2 separate regions of the Homo sapiens genome follow, and region 2 is linked to region 1. The links come from fine-mapping of genetic effects on gene expression. Tissue or cell type: whole blood. Region 1 holds a variant in brackets; the other region holds the start of a gene. All regions are shown on one strand. Distances are from middle to middle.

Evidence for each region. PIP is the estimated chance that this variant, and not a neighbour inherited with it, causes the effect.
Region 2: it holds the start of SBNO2, and the variant in region 1 is fine-mapped to the expression of SBNO2 in whole blood (TOPMed, PIP above 0.99).

The regions. Positions count from the first base shown.
Region 1 is chr19:1,139,340-1,147,517 of GRCh38, reverse strand. SBNO2 (strawberry notch homolog 2) reads left to right here. Exons shown (of 32, transcript NM_014963.3): 4 at 98-209. Among named protein-coding and RNA genes, the nearest start is that of SBNO2, 31 kb to the left of the region's middle. The variant A/G (reference allele first, on the strand shown) is at 3,665.
Region 2 is chr19:1,171,173-1,179,328 of GRCh38, reverse strand. SBNO2 (strawberry notch homolog 2) reads left to right here and starts at 5,061. Exons shown (of 32, transcript NM_014963.3): 1 at 5,061-5,157. LOC102725180 (collagen alpha-1(VII) chain) reads right to left here. Exons shown (of 3, transcript XR_005647046.2): 2 at 5,445-6,310; 3 at 4,336-4,769. RefSeq lists enhancers at 746-1,945, 4,701-4,750, 6,135-6,693 and a silencer at 4,891-5,200.

The DNA.
Region 1 (8,178 bases):
GAGGGGCCTCTGGCTGCGGCCATGGGGGTGCAGGTGTGTTACTGAGGGAGTGGGTTGAGCACCCCATCTCACCTCCCCCCCCCCCATCTCCCTCCAGCCCGTTCATGAGCTCCGCCTCCTTCCTCGGCAGCCAGCCCTGCCCAGACACCAGCTATGCCCCCGTGGCCACCGCCTCCAGCTTGCCACCAAAGACCTGCGACTTTGCTCAGGTAGGAGCCCCAGGAGCTCACCGCGCCGTGGGGGGCAGGGTGGAGTCTGGGCCGCCCCTCCAGCTGCCCTGCGACCTCTCTCGCTCAGGCCTGCCTGGGACTCAGTGACCTCGGCTTGGCCCCTCGGCCGCAGGGTTTACGGTGGGGCAGTAGGAGCCCAGAGATGTGGCTTGGTTTTGGGGAAGAGCCAGTGACTGGCCCTTCGTGTCAGCAGTGAGCCCCGCCCAGCCCTTGGGGTCCCTGCGAGCATCTGGGCAATGCCACAGAGGGAGTTGCGGGGAGGGCGGTGCTGGGAGAGATGCCCTTGGCAGCCTTTGCCCCCACGGCCCTCCCTCTAGGCGGGTCCAGACACCCTGCACATTGGAGTCCCAACCCCTTAGCAGCCACCTGAAAACGGAACTCACATACCAAAGGAACAGAACTTTCCACCTCCTTCTCCCCAGGGTCGCGGGGAGGCTCCCAGCCTCCCACTGCGGCATCAGGCGGACCCCACCCCCACCCTCCCAGCCTCCCCCTTCGGCATCAGGCGGACCCCACCCCCACCCTCACAGCCTCCCACTGCGGCATCAGGCGGACCCCACCCCCACCCTCACAGCCTTCCCCAAGGGGTTCCCAGTGCCCCAGCTTCCTCTCGGCAGCTCTGGAGCACCCAGTGCCACAGAGATCGGCTTCCCTGGGACGGTTCGGATACCACAGCCTCCGTGTGGGACCCGGGGCCAGGGGCTGCTGCTGGGCCGGACCACATCCAGGGCCTGCCGGGGAGCGAGGGTCACCTGGTGCTCAGCTCCCCCAAGCCTCCGCTTCCCCTGTGTAATGGGCATGTGAGATCTGCCTGGGCCTCAGAGCTGTTGGGGGGATGGGCGCAAGCCGGCCAGATCCAGAGAGAAGCGGTCAGGTGTGGCTGCAGCAGAATGGAGCCAATTCAGGTCCCAGGGCTCACCCAGACCCAGGCCCTGCAAACAGCTCGCCGGGTGGACCCCGGGCCCAGTTTTCCCCACTCAGGGCCGTAGCAGAGCGGGGCAAAGCCAGCCGGACCCTGAGTCTGTGCTGGGGTGACCGCGTCCGTCAAGTCCGCCTCCCCAGTAGAGTCTGTGAGGGGACCTTCCTGGAAAGTAGGGTCTTTTTGGATGTCATTGGGTAGGGATCAAGATGAGATGAGGTAGCTCTGAAATCCAGCACAAGGGTCCTCAGAAGAGACAGGAGAGATTGGGAGCTGGCGCCACGCTGGAGGCCGGGGCTGGGGCGGTGTGGCCACAGGTCAGTTTCTCCTGGAGCCCCAGGGCTGGAAGAGGTGGGTCAGAGCTGTGGGAGGGAGCAAGGCCCTGAGACACCTTGGCCTCAGACTCCCGGGCCCTGGGACGGGAAGAGGGTGGATTCCTGTCCTGTAGCCCCCAGTGTGTGGCCTGGAAATTGGCCTACCAGCTGTGTTCAGGGGAGGGGGGCGCCCCTGCTCATCTTGGGGCTGAGGTCAGCGAGGTGCGCACAGGGGCTCTGTCCTCACCCGCAGTAGCCCTGGACCCCCATGTGATCTGGTCCTGGCCAAGGTGTGGCAAGCTGCTGCGCCATGCCAGCCGGACACAGAAGGAAACTGAGGCAGGGGAGGCGCCTGTCCAGAGCTGGCATCTGTGCCCCACCCTTCAGGGGACGCACAGGGGAGGAGCCCGGGGTGCGACTGATGGCAGTGGCTCCTTCCTCACCGCCACTGCCTTCCTACCAGCCCCAGCCCTGGGTCAGCCTGTCCTTGCCCCGCCCCCTTCTTCTCTTTCACCCCTTCTCTGCCTCTTTCTGTGTGTTCCTTCTCTCTTTCCTTTCTTTCTTTCTTTTTTTTTTTTTTTGAGACAGAGTTTTGCTCTTGTTGCTCAGGCTGGAGTGCAATGGCACGATCTTGGCTCACTGCAACCTCCGCTTCCCAGGTTCAAGCGATTTTCCTGCCTCAGCCTCCCGAGCAGCTGAGACCACAGGCATGCACCACCATGCCTGGCTAATTTTTTTTTTTTTTTTTTTGGTAGAGACAGGGTTTCTCCATGTTGGTCAGGCTGGTCTCAAACTCCTGACCTGTGGTGATCCGCCCGCCTCAGCCTCCCAAAGTGCTGGGATTACAGGCGTGAGCCACCGTGCCCGGCCTGTCTCTTTCTTTTCTCTGTCTCTCTCTCTCCCTCTTCCCCCTGCTCCTAGTCTCTCTCTCTGTCTCCCTCCCTCTCAATCTCTCTCTGCCTATCTCCCTCTCTGTCTCTGCCTCCCTCTCTGCCTCTGTCTTCCTCTCTGCCTCTGTCTCTCTCTCTGCCTCTGTCTCTGTCTCCCTCTATGCTCCATCTCTCTGTCTCCCTCTCAGTCTCTGTCTCTGTCTCCCTCTTTGTCTCTGTCTCCCTCTCTGTCTCTGTCTCTCTGTCTCTGTCTCCATCTCCGCCTCTGTCTCTCTGTCTCCCTCTCTGTCTCTGTCTGTGTCTCCCTCTCTGCTTGTCTCTGCCCCTGTCTCTCTGTCTCCCTCTCTGTCTCTGTCTCTCTGTCTCCCTCTCTGTCTCTGTCTCTTTGTCTCTGCCTCTGTCTCTCTGTCTCCCTCTCCACCTGTCTCTTTGTCTCCCTCTCTGCCTCTGTGTCTGTTTCCCTCTCTGTCTCTGTCGCCCTCTCTGTCTTCGTCTGTTTCCCTCTCTGCCTCTGTCTCTGTCGCCCTCTCTGTCTTCGTCTGTTTCCCTCTCTGCCTCTGTCTCTATGTCTCTATGTCTCTGCGTCTCTGTCTCCCTGTCTCTGTCTCTCTCCATGTCTCTGTCTCTGTCTCCGTCTCCATCTCTGTCTCATGAATTCTCCTGCTCCTCCCCTCCTGAACAATTGCTGCTGCATCTGTTCAGCCCGGAGCCCTCGGGGCCACTGTGCTGGTTCTGTGAGCACCGCCCGCCCGGCTCCCTGCCCACCCTGCCTACAGCCGCCTCATGCTCCAGCGTCCGTATGTGGGGCAGCTTGGACCCAAATCTCCCTGTTAAAGCAGCAGAACTTCATTTGGAGGAAGTCTGACCCCGGTGCCAAGTGTGGGCCGGGCCGCGTGGTCCCCCAGTGCTGAGTGTGGGATGGGACGGGTGTGGGTCAGCTCAGTCCTGTGGGCTGGGCCGCAAGGTTCTGTGGTGTCGAGTGTGGGACGGGATGCGTGGTCCCGCGGTGCCAAGTGTGGGACGGGACGGGTATGAGTCAGCCCAGGCCTGTGGGCTGGGCCGCGTGGTTCTGCGGAGCCAGGAAGGAGCCCAGACCTGAGCCTGGTGTTCGAGGCCCTTTGCGCCGTGCCCCCCAGCGCAGCCCAGCCAGCCACGGAAGCCTCTGCTCCCGACTCAGACCTGAGGAAATGTGCTGGCCACACGGTTACAGCCTCCAAGACGTCCCCGTCCTGATCCCCAGGACCTGCCGCCGTGTCGCCTCTCATGGCAGACGGGACCTGCAGATGGGACTGAGTGATGGACCCAAGACGG[A/G]AGAGCTTCCTGGGTGACCTGGAGGCCCAGTGTCCTCACAGGGACCTGCAGATGGGACTGAGTGATGGACCCGAGACGGGAGAGCTTCCTGGGTGACCTGGAGACCCAGTGTCCTCACAGGGCCCTCATGAGAGGAGGCGGGAGGGTGAGAGCCAGAGAGAGACGGGAAGAGCCTGCGCTCTGGCCGTGAAGGGGGAAGAAGGGGCCCCAAGCCAAGGGATGCGGGTGCCTCTGGACACTGGAAAGGCAGGAACTGGGTTTTCCCCTGGAGCCCCCGGGAGGGACCTGCCCTGCCCACCCTTGATGTTACAAGTTCTGCCCTCCAGACTGTGAGAGGATAAGTGTGTGTTTCATTTATATATTTTTTTAATTTTTATTTTTAGAGACAGGGTCTGGCTCTGTTGTTCAGCCTGGAGTGCAGCGGTGCAATCTCGGCTCACTGCAGCCTCCACCTCCTGGGCTCAAGCTCCCACCTCAGCTTCCCCAGTAGCTGGGACCATAAGGACACACCACCACACCCAGATAATTTTTTATGTTTTGTAGAAATGAGGTCTCACTGTGTTGCCTAGGCTGGTCTCAAACTTCTGGGCTCAAGCGATTCTCCTGCCTGAGCCTACCAAAGCATGGGGATTACAGGCGTGAGCCACCATATTCAGCTTGTTGGAGCCATGAGGTTGACAGTAGCTTTTCACGGGAGCGAGGGGAAACGGAGGCACCGTTCAAAGCCATCGTGTGACCTGTGGCATGTGTGCATTCCCTGCAAATGTTTCCTGCTGTTGTATAAACCTGGAGGGATTGGTAGGGAGAACCTGTTCCTGGGCTGGGAGTGAGGGTGAATGTAAAACCCCACAGGCCATAACGAGACAGCTAGTCATGACTTTTTTTTCTGGAGACCGACTCTTACTCTTGCCCAGGCTGGAGTGTAGTGGCGCCATCTTGGGTAACTGCAACCTCTGCCTGGCGGGTTCAAGCGATTCTCCTGCCTCAGCCTACCAAGTAGCTGGGACTACAGGCACCCACCACCACGCCCGGCTAATTTTTATATTTTTAGTAGAGATGGGATTTCGCCATGTTGGCCAGGATGGTCTCGAACTCCTGACCTCAGGTGATCTGCCCGTCTCCCAAAGTGCTGGGATTACAGGCATGAGCCACCGCACCTGGCCTATTGTTTTTTGAGACGGAGTCTCGCTCTGTCACCCAGGCTGGAGTGCAGTGGTGCAATCTCGGCTCACTGCAACCTCTGCCTCCCAAGTGTGAGCCATTCTTCTGCCTCAGCCTCCCGAGTAGCTGGGATTATAGGTGTGCGCCACCACGCCTGGCTAATTTTTGTATTTTTAGTAGAGACGGGGTTTCACCATATTGGCCAGGCTGGTCTCGAACTCCTGACCTCAGGCGATCCGCCTGGTAACTATTGATACACCTGAGCCCTGAGTTTCTTGGCAGCCAGAGCAATAGGAGAAAGCAGATGAGCCGTGGACCCGGGCAGTGCCTGGGGCCAGTGGACTCCGCAGCACTGTTGGTTCTGCTGGAGAGCCTTCACGGCCTGGGGAGGGAGGCCACTGAGGGGCAGATTGATTGTGGGGAGGGAGGTCATTGAGGGGAGGGTTGATCGTGAGGGAGGTCATTGAGGGAGGGTTGATCATGAGGGAGGTCATTGAGTGAGGGTTGATCATGGGGAGGGAGGTCATTGAGTGAGGATTGATCGTGGGGAGGGAGGTCATTGAGGGAGGGTTGATCATGAGGGAGGTCACTGAGTGAGGGTTGATCATGAGGAGGGAGGCCATTGAGGGGAGGGTTGATCGTGAGGGAGGTCATTGAGGGGAGGGTTGATCATGGCTCACCTGGTGGTCTTCACTTCACAGACTCCGAGTAGGGCCACTGTGCCTGGGAGATTCTGCCCCTGGGAATGCAGGAGGTCATGTTTGAGTCAGGACTGGGCACGGTGGCTCACGCCTGTGATCCCAGCACTTTGGGAGGCCAAGGCGGGAGGATTGTTTGAGCCCAGGGGTTTGAGACCAGCCTGCGCAACATAGTGAGACCCTATCTGTATAAAAAATAGAAAAAATTAGTCGGGCATGGTGGTGCAAGCCTGTAGTCCCAGTATTTGGGTCCCATCTATTTGACTGAGGCATGAGGATCGCTTGAGTCTGGGAGTTCCCAGTGGGAGGCCCATTGTGTTTGTCCGTGTGTCCGTGATGGATGCGTGGAGGGCCCCACTGTGTTTGTCCGTGATGGACGCGTGGAGGGGCCCACTGTGTTTGTCCATGAAGGACACGTGGATCCAGCCTGGGCAACATAATGAGACCTCATCTCTATACAAAATTAAAAATTAGATTTACAGGTCAGGCGCAGTGCTCAAGCTTGTAACCCCAGCACTTTGGGGGGCCAAGGCGGGCAGATCACCTGAGCTTAGGAGTTTGAGACCATCCTGGCCAACGTGGCGAAACCCCGTCTCTACTACAAATACAAAAATTAGCTGAGCATGGTGGCGGGCACCTGTAATCCCAGCTACTCAGGAGGCTGAGGCAGGAGAATCACTTGAACTCGGGAAGCAGAGGTTGCAGGGAGCCGAGATTGCGCCACTGCATTCGAGCCTGGGTGACAGAGCAAGACTCTGTCTAAAAAAAAAAAAATTACAAAAAAATTGCAAAAACTAAGAGCTTGTTGGACCGGGGGAGTCAGCAGCCTCTGCGCTTGCCCCCGAAGAGGCAGTTCTCCAGGGTGCCTCTTCTCCGGGGCGCGTGTTCTCCGGGGCGCGTCTTCTCCGGAGTGCCTCTTCTCCGGGGCGCCTCTTCTCCGGGGTGCGTCTTCTCCGGGGTGCGTCTTCTCCAGGGTGTGTCTTCTCCAGGGTGTGTCTTCTCCAGAGTGCCTCTCCGTTGGTTTTGTCTGGGGTTGTCTCCTGACTGGATGGAGGAATCCCTCAGACGGCACCATGTACAGTGCGGCGTGGACCGGAGTGCCTGGCGTTGCGCGTGTTGTGCTGATGCTGGTAACTTTGGCCGCTTGGCGGGGACGGGGTTCCTTCACCATCCATTTCCTGTTTCTCTCAGCCTGGGGGAAGACCCAAGGCTGAGCAGAGGCTGGTCCTGCCCAAGGCGGGGTCAGCAGCCTCTGCCCGTGGGAGCTGCCTGCGGGCATCCCTGCTGCGTCCGTCTGTTTTCCGTGTGCCTTCTCCTGCTGACGGCTGGGTCTGTGTGGGACCCCCACCCCTTCCCCGCTCTCTGCCTGCTCCCTGGCCACCCCCACCCCCACCCCTGGGGCTCACGCTGCGCCAGGATGCCGCTGCTGGCATCCACCGTGGGCTGCGGGGCTCCCGCGGTGTCACGTGTGTGCCTTGCCCGGCCCTCCAGCCACCCTGGCCCGGAGGAAGGGCCCCCCTCACTTCTGCTCAGCCTTCCGTCTCCAGGTTGGCGCGAAGCCATCAGGCTCAATGTCCCTGGTGGGTGATGGCTCAGCCCCGTGTGTCCTGGTGGGGCCCCCTGCCGCGGTGTGCAGGTGAACCGTGGTTCTGTGGACACGTGGCTCTGTGTTGCTGCTGCTTTTTTTTTTTTTTTGAGATGAAATCTCGCTCTGTCGCCCAGGCTGGAGTGCAGTGGCGTGACCTCGGCTCACTGCAACCAACGCCTCCTGGGTTCATGCCATTCTCCCGCCTCAGCCTCCCGAGTAGCTGGGACTACAGGTGCCCACCACCACGCCCAGCTAATTTTTTGTGTTTTTTAGTGGACACGGGGTTTCACCGTGTTAGCCAGGCTGGTCTCAATCTCCTGACCTTGTGATCCACCCACCTCAGCCTCCCAAAGCATTGGGATTACAGGCGTGAGCCACCGCGCCCGGCCTGCATTTCTTCTTTATTTTCTTTCTTTCTTTTCTGTCTCTGTTTTTCTCTAGTTTTTTGTTTTGTTTTGAGATGGAGTTTTGCTTTTGGTGTCTAAGCTGGAGTGCAATGGTGTGATCTATCTCGGCTCATGGCAAACTCTGCCTCCCAGGTTCAAGCGATTCTCCTGTCTCAGCCTCCTGAGTAGCTGGGATTACAGACGCGCACCATATTTATTTATTTTTGAGACAAAGTCTCACTCTGTCTCCCAGGCTGGAGTGCAATGGCACGATCTCAGCTCACTGCAGCCTCTGCTTGCCTGGTTCAAGTGATTCTCCTGCCTCAGCCTCCCGAGTAGCTGGGATTACAGGTGTGCGCCACCGCGCCCAGCTGATTTTTGTATTTTTAGTAGAGACGGGGTTTCACCACGTTGGCCAGGGTGGTCTCAAACTCGTGATCTCAGGTGATCCATCCGCCTCGGCCTCCCAAAGTGTCGGGATTACAGGTGCGAGCCACCACGCCCCGCCCCTTTTCTGTCACGTGAGACTCAATTCACGTGACAGAAAAGTCCCCATTTCTAAGTGAACGATGCTGTGGCTGTTACAAAGTCCAGAGCTGTTCAGCCATCACCATGTAATTCTAATTCCAGATCATTGTCCCCCTAGAGGAGGCCCTGTCCCCGTCAGCTGTCACTCCCCAT
Region 2 (8,156 bases), 32 kb before region 1:
GTTGAATTTTAACTGGGTGTCTTGTGTTTGATCTGGCAACCCCACTTCCACAATTCTCTCGAAGGGGCTGGGAAGACATTTAGGAGGACCTGTATGGGATGGGGAAGAGGGAGGGTTTAGGGAGGAGAGTGTTGACGTCAAACACAGCCCCACCAGAAAACCTCCACAAATGTACAACTCTGTCCCCCAGGAGAGCTCTCCACCCTTCACATGGCACCGAGGACCTGGGCCTGGGCCAGAGCTGGAAGCCTGAGAGCTCTCTGCGGGGTGGGACTACTGGGGGACGGGGCTATCCACACCTCTGACCAGTTGAGCGTCTCCCCTGGGGGGCGGCTTCCAAAGTCTGAGCCAGGAGAGCTGGTGCCGGCCAGGGCCCTCACCCCATCTCTGCCCATCTGTGGCGTCAAAAATGCCTCCTCTCTTGAACTCCAACTGCAGCATTCATCCTTATTATTTTCTCATTGAACATCCACTTCAGTGACGCCATGGACTGGGCCGAGGAAAATCAAGAATTTCCCTAGGGTGGCTCAAGCCTGGAATCCCAGCAATATGGGAGGCCAAGGCAGGCGGATCACGAGGTCAAGAGCTCGAGACCATCCTGGTCAACATGGTGAAACCCTGCCTCTACTGAAAATACAAAAATTAGCCGGGCATGGTGGCACGTGCCTGTAATCCCAGCTACTTGGGAGGCTGAGGCAAGATAATCACTTGGACCCAAGAGGCAGGGGTTGCACTAAGTTGAGCTCATGCCCCTGCACTCCAGCCTGGGTGAAAGGGCCAGACTTCGTCTCAAAAAAAAAAAAAAAAAGAATTTCATTTGGAAATATTCGTAGTGGTTAAATTCTATTAGGCACTGTCTGTCCATTGAGTTGTCTGAACAACCTAGCAGCTAGTTGCTATTATTATTATTATCATTATTATTATTTTTTTTGAGACAGAGTCTTGCTCTGTTGCCCAGGCTGGAGTGCAGTGGTGCGATCTCAGCTCATTGCAACCTCCGCCTCCCGGGTTCAAGCGATTCTCCTGCCTCAGCCTCCGGAGTGGTTGGGACCACAGGTACGTACCATCATGTCCGGCTTATTTTTGTATTTTTAGTAGAGACAGGGTTTCACCATGTTATCCAGGATGGTCTCAATCTCTTGACCTCGTGATCTTCCCGTCTCAGCCTCCCAAAGTGCTGGGATTACAGGTATAAGCCACCGTGCCCGGCCACTAGTTGCTATTATTATCACCCTCCCCATTTTATAGGTGGGAAAACCGGGGCACAGAGAGGTTAAGTAACTCTCCTTGGGTCACACAGCAGATTCACAGCACTGTACTCCAGGCTGGGCCATGAGCCCCAGTACTGTGTCCCTGCTGCTTTCCGGAGCCACCCCCTGTGATTCCCTGGAAATCCCCGCATCTGACTAATTCCCTAAGCATCCCCCAACTTGGCAGATTCCTGCCTGCTGAGATGGCTGGACCCACCCCGGCCTGGGCAAACTGCCCCCACTTTAGGCAAAATCACCCATCGAGACCTTGTGGTTTCCCGAGGTGGATGTGGCAGAGATCGAGCCCACGCCTCTTCCTAGCTCACTTGGTGACCTCAGGGCAGCTTCTGAACAGTTCGTGCCTCAGTTTCCTCCCTCGTGAAATGCAGGTAATACCAGTCGCTACCCCAGAGGGCCGCTGTGGGAGCAGGGCCGGCGTCGTGGGTGTGTGTGACTCGGGGCTTCGCCCACCGCCTGCACTCAGAAGGTCCCGGCGCTCAGCGTGATGCTTTGCTGTTGCCTAACCCAAGCTATGAAATATGTTTTGTGCCGGGGCACCGTGTTTTCATTTCCACTGATCCTCAAAAGTTGTGTGGATGGTCCAGTGTGGGAGGAAATGAGCAGATGCAGCCGCCACCCTCCAGTCCCCAGGCTGGCTTCCTCACCCTTCCAAATCTTTAGTGCCTATTGCTCAATTTAACTGCTGTTCAATTTGCTGTGAAAAGAGTCTCAGCCAGGCACGGTGGCTCATGCCTGTAATCCCAGCACTTTGGGAGGCCGAGGCAGGCAGATCACCTGAGGTCAGGAGTTTGAGACCAGCCTGACCAACATGGAGAAACCCTATTTCTACGGAAAATACAAAATTAGCTGGGCATGGTGGCACATGCCTGTAATCCCAGCTACTTGGCAGGCTGAGGCAGGATAACCACTTGAACAGGGGAGGAGGAGGTTGCAGTGGGCCAAGATTGCGCCAATGCACTCCAGCCTGGGCAACAGGAGTGAAACTCCATCTCAAAAAAAAGAGAAAATAGTCTCAAAGTTGAGATGAGCACCCAGTTTGCCAAAACCGGGAGGCAGAGGTCATGCCATTGCACTCCGGCCTGGGAGACACAGCAAGACTCCATCTCAAAAAAAAGGAGATTTGGCCGGGTGCGTTGGCTCACGCCCGTAATCCCAGCACTTTGGGTGGCCGAGGCGGGCGGATCACGAGGTCAGGAGATCGAGACCATCCTGGCTAACACGGTGAAACCCCGTCTCTACTAAAAATACAAAAAATTAGCCGGGGTGGTGGCGGGCGCCTGCAGTCCCAGCTACTCAGGAGGCTGAGGCAGGAGAATGGCATGAACCTGGGAGGTGGAGCTTGCAGTGAGCTGAGATTGCGCCACTGCACTCCAGCCTGGGCGACAGAGCCAGACTCCGTCCCAAAAAAAAAAAAAAAAAAAAGAGATTCAGTGTGGAGGGAAGTATCTCTGTCGGGTCCGGCTGCTCTGCGGGACTCTGAGGAAAAGCTCACAACAGGTGGACGCCGTTCTGTCACCATGGGTAAAGGAGACCCCCAATGAGCTGAAGGACAAAATGTCCTTGTGCGCCTTCTGCATCTCACTCTGGACATATCACTTCTGCCTTCTGGGTCTGAGTTTCCCCATCTGCCCCCTTGTGCTTTTGGGTTTGATGACAGGGGTCCTTGGCCTGAAATTTTTTTTTTTTTTTTTTTTTTAGACGGGGTCTTGTCATGTCACCCAGGCTGGAGTGCAATGGCGCGATCTCAGCTCACTGCAACCTCCGCCTCCCAGATTCAAGTGATTCTCCTGCCTCAGCCTCCTGAGTAGTCAGGATTACAGGCACCCACTACCACGCCTGGCTAATTTTTGTATTTTTAGTAGAGACAGGGTTTCACCATGTTCGTCAGGCTGGTGTTGAACTTCTGACCTAGGTGATTCACCCACCTCAGCCTCCCAAAGTGTTGGGATTACAGGCGTGAGCCACCGTTTTTTGTTTGTTTGTTTTTTTGAGACCGAACCTCACTCTATCGCCCAGGCTGGAGTGCAGTGGTGTGATCTCAGCTCACTGCAACCTCTACCTCCTGGGTTCAAGCGATTCTCCTGCCTCAGCCTCCCTAGTAGCTGGGAATACAGGCAGGCACCACCATGCCCAGCTAACTTTTTTGTACTTTTAGTAGAGATGGGGTTTCACCATGTTGGCCAGGCTGGTCTCAAACCGCTGACCTCAGGTGTTCCTCCTGCCTCAGACTCCCGTAGTGCTGGGATTACAGGCGTGAGCCACCGTGCCTGGCTTTTGGCCTCAGTTTTTTAGAGAGGTGCTAAAATATCTTAAACCTGCTTATTATCTGCCTTACCAGGCCTTCTTTGCCCGGACTGTTCTTCCTACTCTTGTCTACCTGGTACACTCCTACTTGAACTTCAAAACCCCAGCTTCAACACACTCTTCAGCATGCAGCCCTCTATGAAGCCCTAGGCAGACATTTCAACCCTCCCAGAGATCCCGCATATTGGAGTGTCTGGTCCTGGTTCTCTCTCCCCTAGACCAGGGGCTTTCTGATGTTGGGACAGACAGCTGAGTCCTCTGTGAGACCCTGGGTTTTCCCAGCTCATGACCAAGCACAGAGCAGCATCGATTAGAAGTCACTGAATGAATTAACAAAGTCATGGAGAAATCAACTCTAGTTTCAGGGGGTTGGAATGGGGGCAGAGGCCTCTGGCTTGTGGCTGCTTGGGTCCAGGGAGCTGTATCAGTATTGTCATGGCTGAAATTGGGCTGGGGAGGCGGTGGTGCCTCCCACACTGGATCTGCCTTCACTGGCTCAAGTCACAGGAAAAGTGCCCTGAGACTCCAGCTCCCCACGCAGGGCAGCCTCCCACCACAGCCACCGAGAGGAGGAGCCCCTCAGGCCCCCGTGGCCCTGCCTGAAAGGATCCTGCTCTCTTGGGGGTAGCCCCTGGGACTTACCCAAACCCCCATGTGCCAGTCACCATGCTGAAGCGTCCAGAACTGTATTTGGTTAGGGAGAGAGATTAATGAACAGAGATAACTTTTCGTGAGAGAGTATGTCTGACAGGCCCAGAGGTGATGATTTTATTTCATTTTATTTTATTTCGTTATTTATTTATTTATTTTTGAGATGGAGTCTCACTCTGTTGCCCGGGCTGGAGTGCAGTGGTGCGATCTCAGCTCACTGCAATAACTACCTCCCAGGTTCAAGCGATACTACTGCCTCAGCCTCCTGAGTAGCTGGGATTACAGGTGCCCGCCATCACGCCCAGCTAATTTTTGTATATTTAGTAGAGACGGGGTTTCATCATATTGTCCAGGTTGGCCTCAAACTCCCGACCTCAAGTGATCCATCCGCCTCAGCCTCTCAAAGTGCTGCGATTACAGGCGTGAGCCACTGCGCCCGGCTGGTGATCGTCTTAGTAGCTTTTGAGGGAGTCTCAGTTTAAAAGTCTCGGGTGAGTGAGCCCCAGTGGGGGACGTGGCACATGCAGAGGCTTGGAGGGGGTTCTGAGGAAGGAGGAAAAAAGGGGATGCTGTACCACAAAGCAGATTCCATTTCACCAGCACGGTGCAGAAGAGGAAACTGAGGCTTGAGGAGGTGAAAGCACATGCTGGGGTCTCAAGAGAACCAGGCAGGGCGGGATTCGAACCCAGAGCCGTAGGAGTCCCAGCCCCTTCCGAATAGCGGAAGGACCTCAAGGGATTGGCTTGGAAGGTGGCCCCGCCCCCGAACCGAGACCACGCCCCCGCAGGTGGAGGCCCCGCCCCGCGGCATGACCGGAAGTGCGCGGGGCCCCCAAGATGGCGCCCGAAACCCGGAAGTGAGCGGCGGCAGCTGCGAGGCTCGGAGAAACAGGCGCCGCGGGCTCCGCGCCCGGCCGGACCCGGGCCCGAGGTGAGGCTCTGGTTGCGACCCCCGCCCCGGCTCCACCGCGACCCCTGCCTGGCCCGACCCCGCTTGTGGGTCCGGCGCTCCCCGCGGACCCCTGCGCCCGGGGCTGGGGGTTCTGGGGGCCGTGGGGCGGGGGCGAGCGCGGCGGGACCCCCGCCCTCCGCCGCGACCCCTTCCGACCCCGCCCTTCGCCGCCAACGTTGACCCCGCGCTGCCCCGCGACCACCGCCGTGAACCTTGACCTGCCCCCCCGCCCCCCGGCGACCCCCTGCCGTGAACCTTAACCCTACCTTCCACGACAACCCTCCCAACCTTTCCTTCCCGCTCTTCCGGGTGACTCCCTGTACCGCGCAGCTTGGTGACCCCCGACCTTTCGTTTTCTGGTAACCCTTGACCCCGCACTCATCGGTGCCCCCGAGCCCCTTGGTGACCCCGCACCCGCTTTTCCTCGGTATCCTGGCCTTCCCTTTTGGGGACTCTCGACTCCATGCGCCTCGTGACCTCGACCCCTTCCTGGGAGTGACCCCCGGTCTCTCCCGCCGCCCCGATTCCTGACTCCAGGCTCCTCGGGCGTTCGTGCCCCTTCCTCCTCCTTGTCCCCGGTCCCAGGACCCTTGCCTTCTCGGCCCCGCAGCGCAGCCCTGTCTCCCTCCCTCCCCTTGCTCCCCGCCCCTCCCGCTCCTGGGGCCTCCGACTTCTCTTCTGGGGCAGATGGTTTTTCGGTTTCTGCATGGAGGTCCCCCGGTTTGGGATGGGGGCTTGCTGATATTAGGTGACCCCGGGGCCGTCTGGGCGGAGTCTGCAGAGCGTGTTGGGGGTGGGAGTGCGGGTCGCATTCAAACCCGGCTTCCAGGGACAGGCGGGAGGGAGGGTAGCGGGCTGAGATGGCCCGAGTGGGGCCCGGGAGCAGCGTGTGTCGGTGAAGGGGAAGCGCAGGCCTCCTGGTGGGTCCTGTCCCCCGTAGGGCACTCTTCCCACCACCCCAGAGTCCCGAAGAATAAGGCAGGTGGGGCCTGGAGGGACCAATCCCCAGACTGACCTGGGGCGTGGGGGGCAGGCGTTGTGGAGAGCCCACCCAGCGCCTCCAGGGACGCCGGGCACGGATGGTGCTGGGGCAGGGACGGTGGGTGTCTCCCTGGATGAACTGATTAACATTCTGAAAAGTTAAAAAAAAAAAAAAAAAATCTCTTAAATGTGTAGCCGGGGCCTCCCCTGGCTGCTTCTTCCCGGAATGCCTGTTGTTCCCGCCTGCTCAGAACGTCCTTCCTGCCTGTGACTGCTGGGACGGGACGGGATAGGTTTGGTGCCATCTGTTGCACGCCCTGTCAGCGAGAGTGCCCGGCCTCGGAGCTGGCCTGTGCTGATGCTGGCTGCCAGTTTGCCGGGGCGGGGGGGGCGGTTGCAGTGAGTGTTTTACAGAGGGGCAGAGGAAGCCGAGGTTCAAGAGAAGAGCATGGGAGGGGCCGAGGACCCAGGGCCGCAGACCCCGTGGGCAGCCAGCCCGATTACACGGGGATTACAGGCTTCAAACTTTCTTCCAGGCCTCTTCCTCCGGGCCAGGGCAGCCGGCACTGCTTCCTGACTGAGGGGTGCTGTGCTGTTTCGGGTGCCCTCCCTGGGATGTCTCTCCCTGACTCGGCCCTGGAAGAGGAGCAGCGGGGACATGGGACCCAGAGAGTTTGTGGCAGGCCCAGCAGGTGCCGTCCACGCCCTTTCTTCCCAGACATCCTCTGGCCTTCAGGGATCTGGCTGCCCGGCCCCAGATTTTCCCAGGGGTGACCCTGGTCGTGGGGTGATGGCTTCTCACAGTGGCCTGCTCCGGGCCACCTTCAGAGTTCTTGCCGAGAAAGGGCGAATTTGAGATCTGGACCCCTTGGTGGGTGGGATGGAGAACAGCAGGATGGGGGCCTCAGGGCCTCCCACGGCAGGGGAGACGGCAGAGGAGACGCAGGCAGGCTCTCGTCCTTGGAGAGGGAAGGACTTGGAAGGCGCCTGCCAGCCCCTGGAGTGTGATTTCAGAGCACAGGGAGGAGGCTTTTGTTTAACTCTGAGGATCCCGGCAGACATCTGCCCACACCTGCCAGGAGCCAGGAGGGCCCTGGTGTGGAGGGGGCTGTGCAGGCAGGGGCTGGACTTCAGGGGGAGGGAGCCTGTCAGAGCACAGAAGAGGCAGCAGGAGCTTCCCTCATCCATTCACTCTCAGTTTGCTTTGGGGTCTGGCCTCTCCGTTCATCCATTCACTCTTGGTTGGCTTTGGAGTCTGGGCTAGACAGGAGGCACCCAGGTGTGCAGGTGCGGAGGAGAGGGTGCATGTTCTCCAGCCGCGTGACCATGGGCAGTCACTGCCCTCTCACCTGGCGGGGAAACCGAGGTGGAGAGAGGTTGCGCCAGCCACCCCTAGACCCCCCACCCACTTGCTGCCTAAGGCCTCCCCCAACCCCAGGGGTGTGAGGGGTGTGACCAGCTTGGGCTTGGCCCAACCCGGCTCCAGCGGAGTCACGGATGCCCCTCCGGCAGGGCCCATGCGGAAACGCCAACACCGCCAGAGTGAGCTCTGCCCCGAACAAAGAGGCGACTGTGTCGACAGAACCAGTCCGGCTCCCAGAGGCCCCCTCCCAGGGGGCCCCCATGCTGGGGGGTGGGATCAGCTCTGGGAAGGGGGCGGTATCATGTAATCCACAGCTGTAAACACTCCTGGAGGCGGTGTGGAGGCAGCCCCCCATGACGCCAGCGCTGCCCTGGGGACTCTGCATGTGTGTGTACACGTGTCTTTGTGTATCTGTATGTTGCGCCATGTGCATGCACATGTGTGTTGTGTGCCTGTGTGTTGTATGGATGTGTGTATTCTTTGTGTGCATTGTACGTACGCACGTGCATTCTGTGTGTGCGTCGTACGGACGTGTGCGCGTTCTGTGTGTGTGTTGTACGGATGTGGGTGCGTTGTGTGTGTGTGAATGTGCGTGCCTGTGGCTGTGTGCTCCTGTGCATGTGTGTGTTGCTCG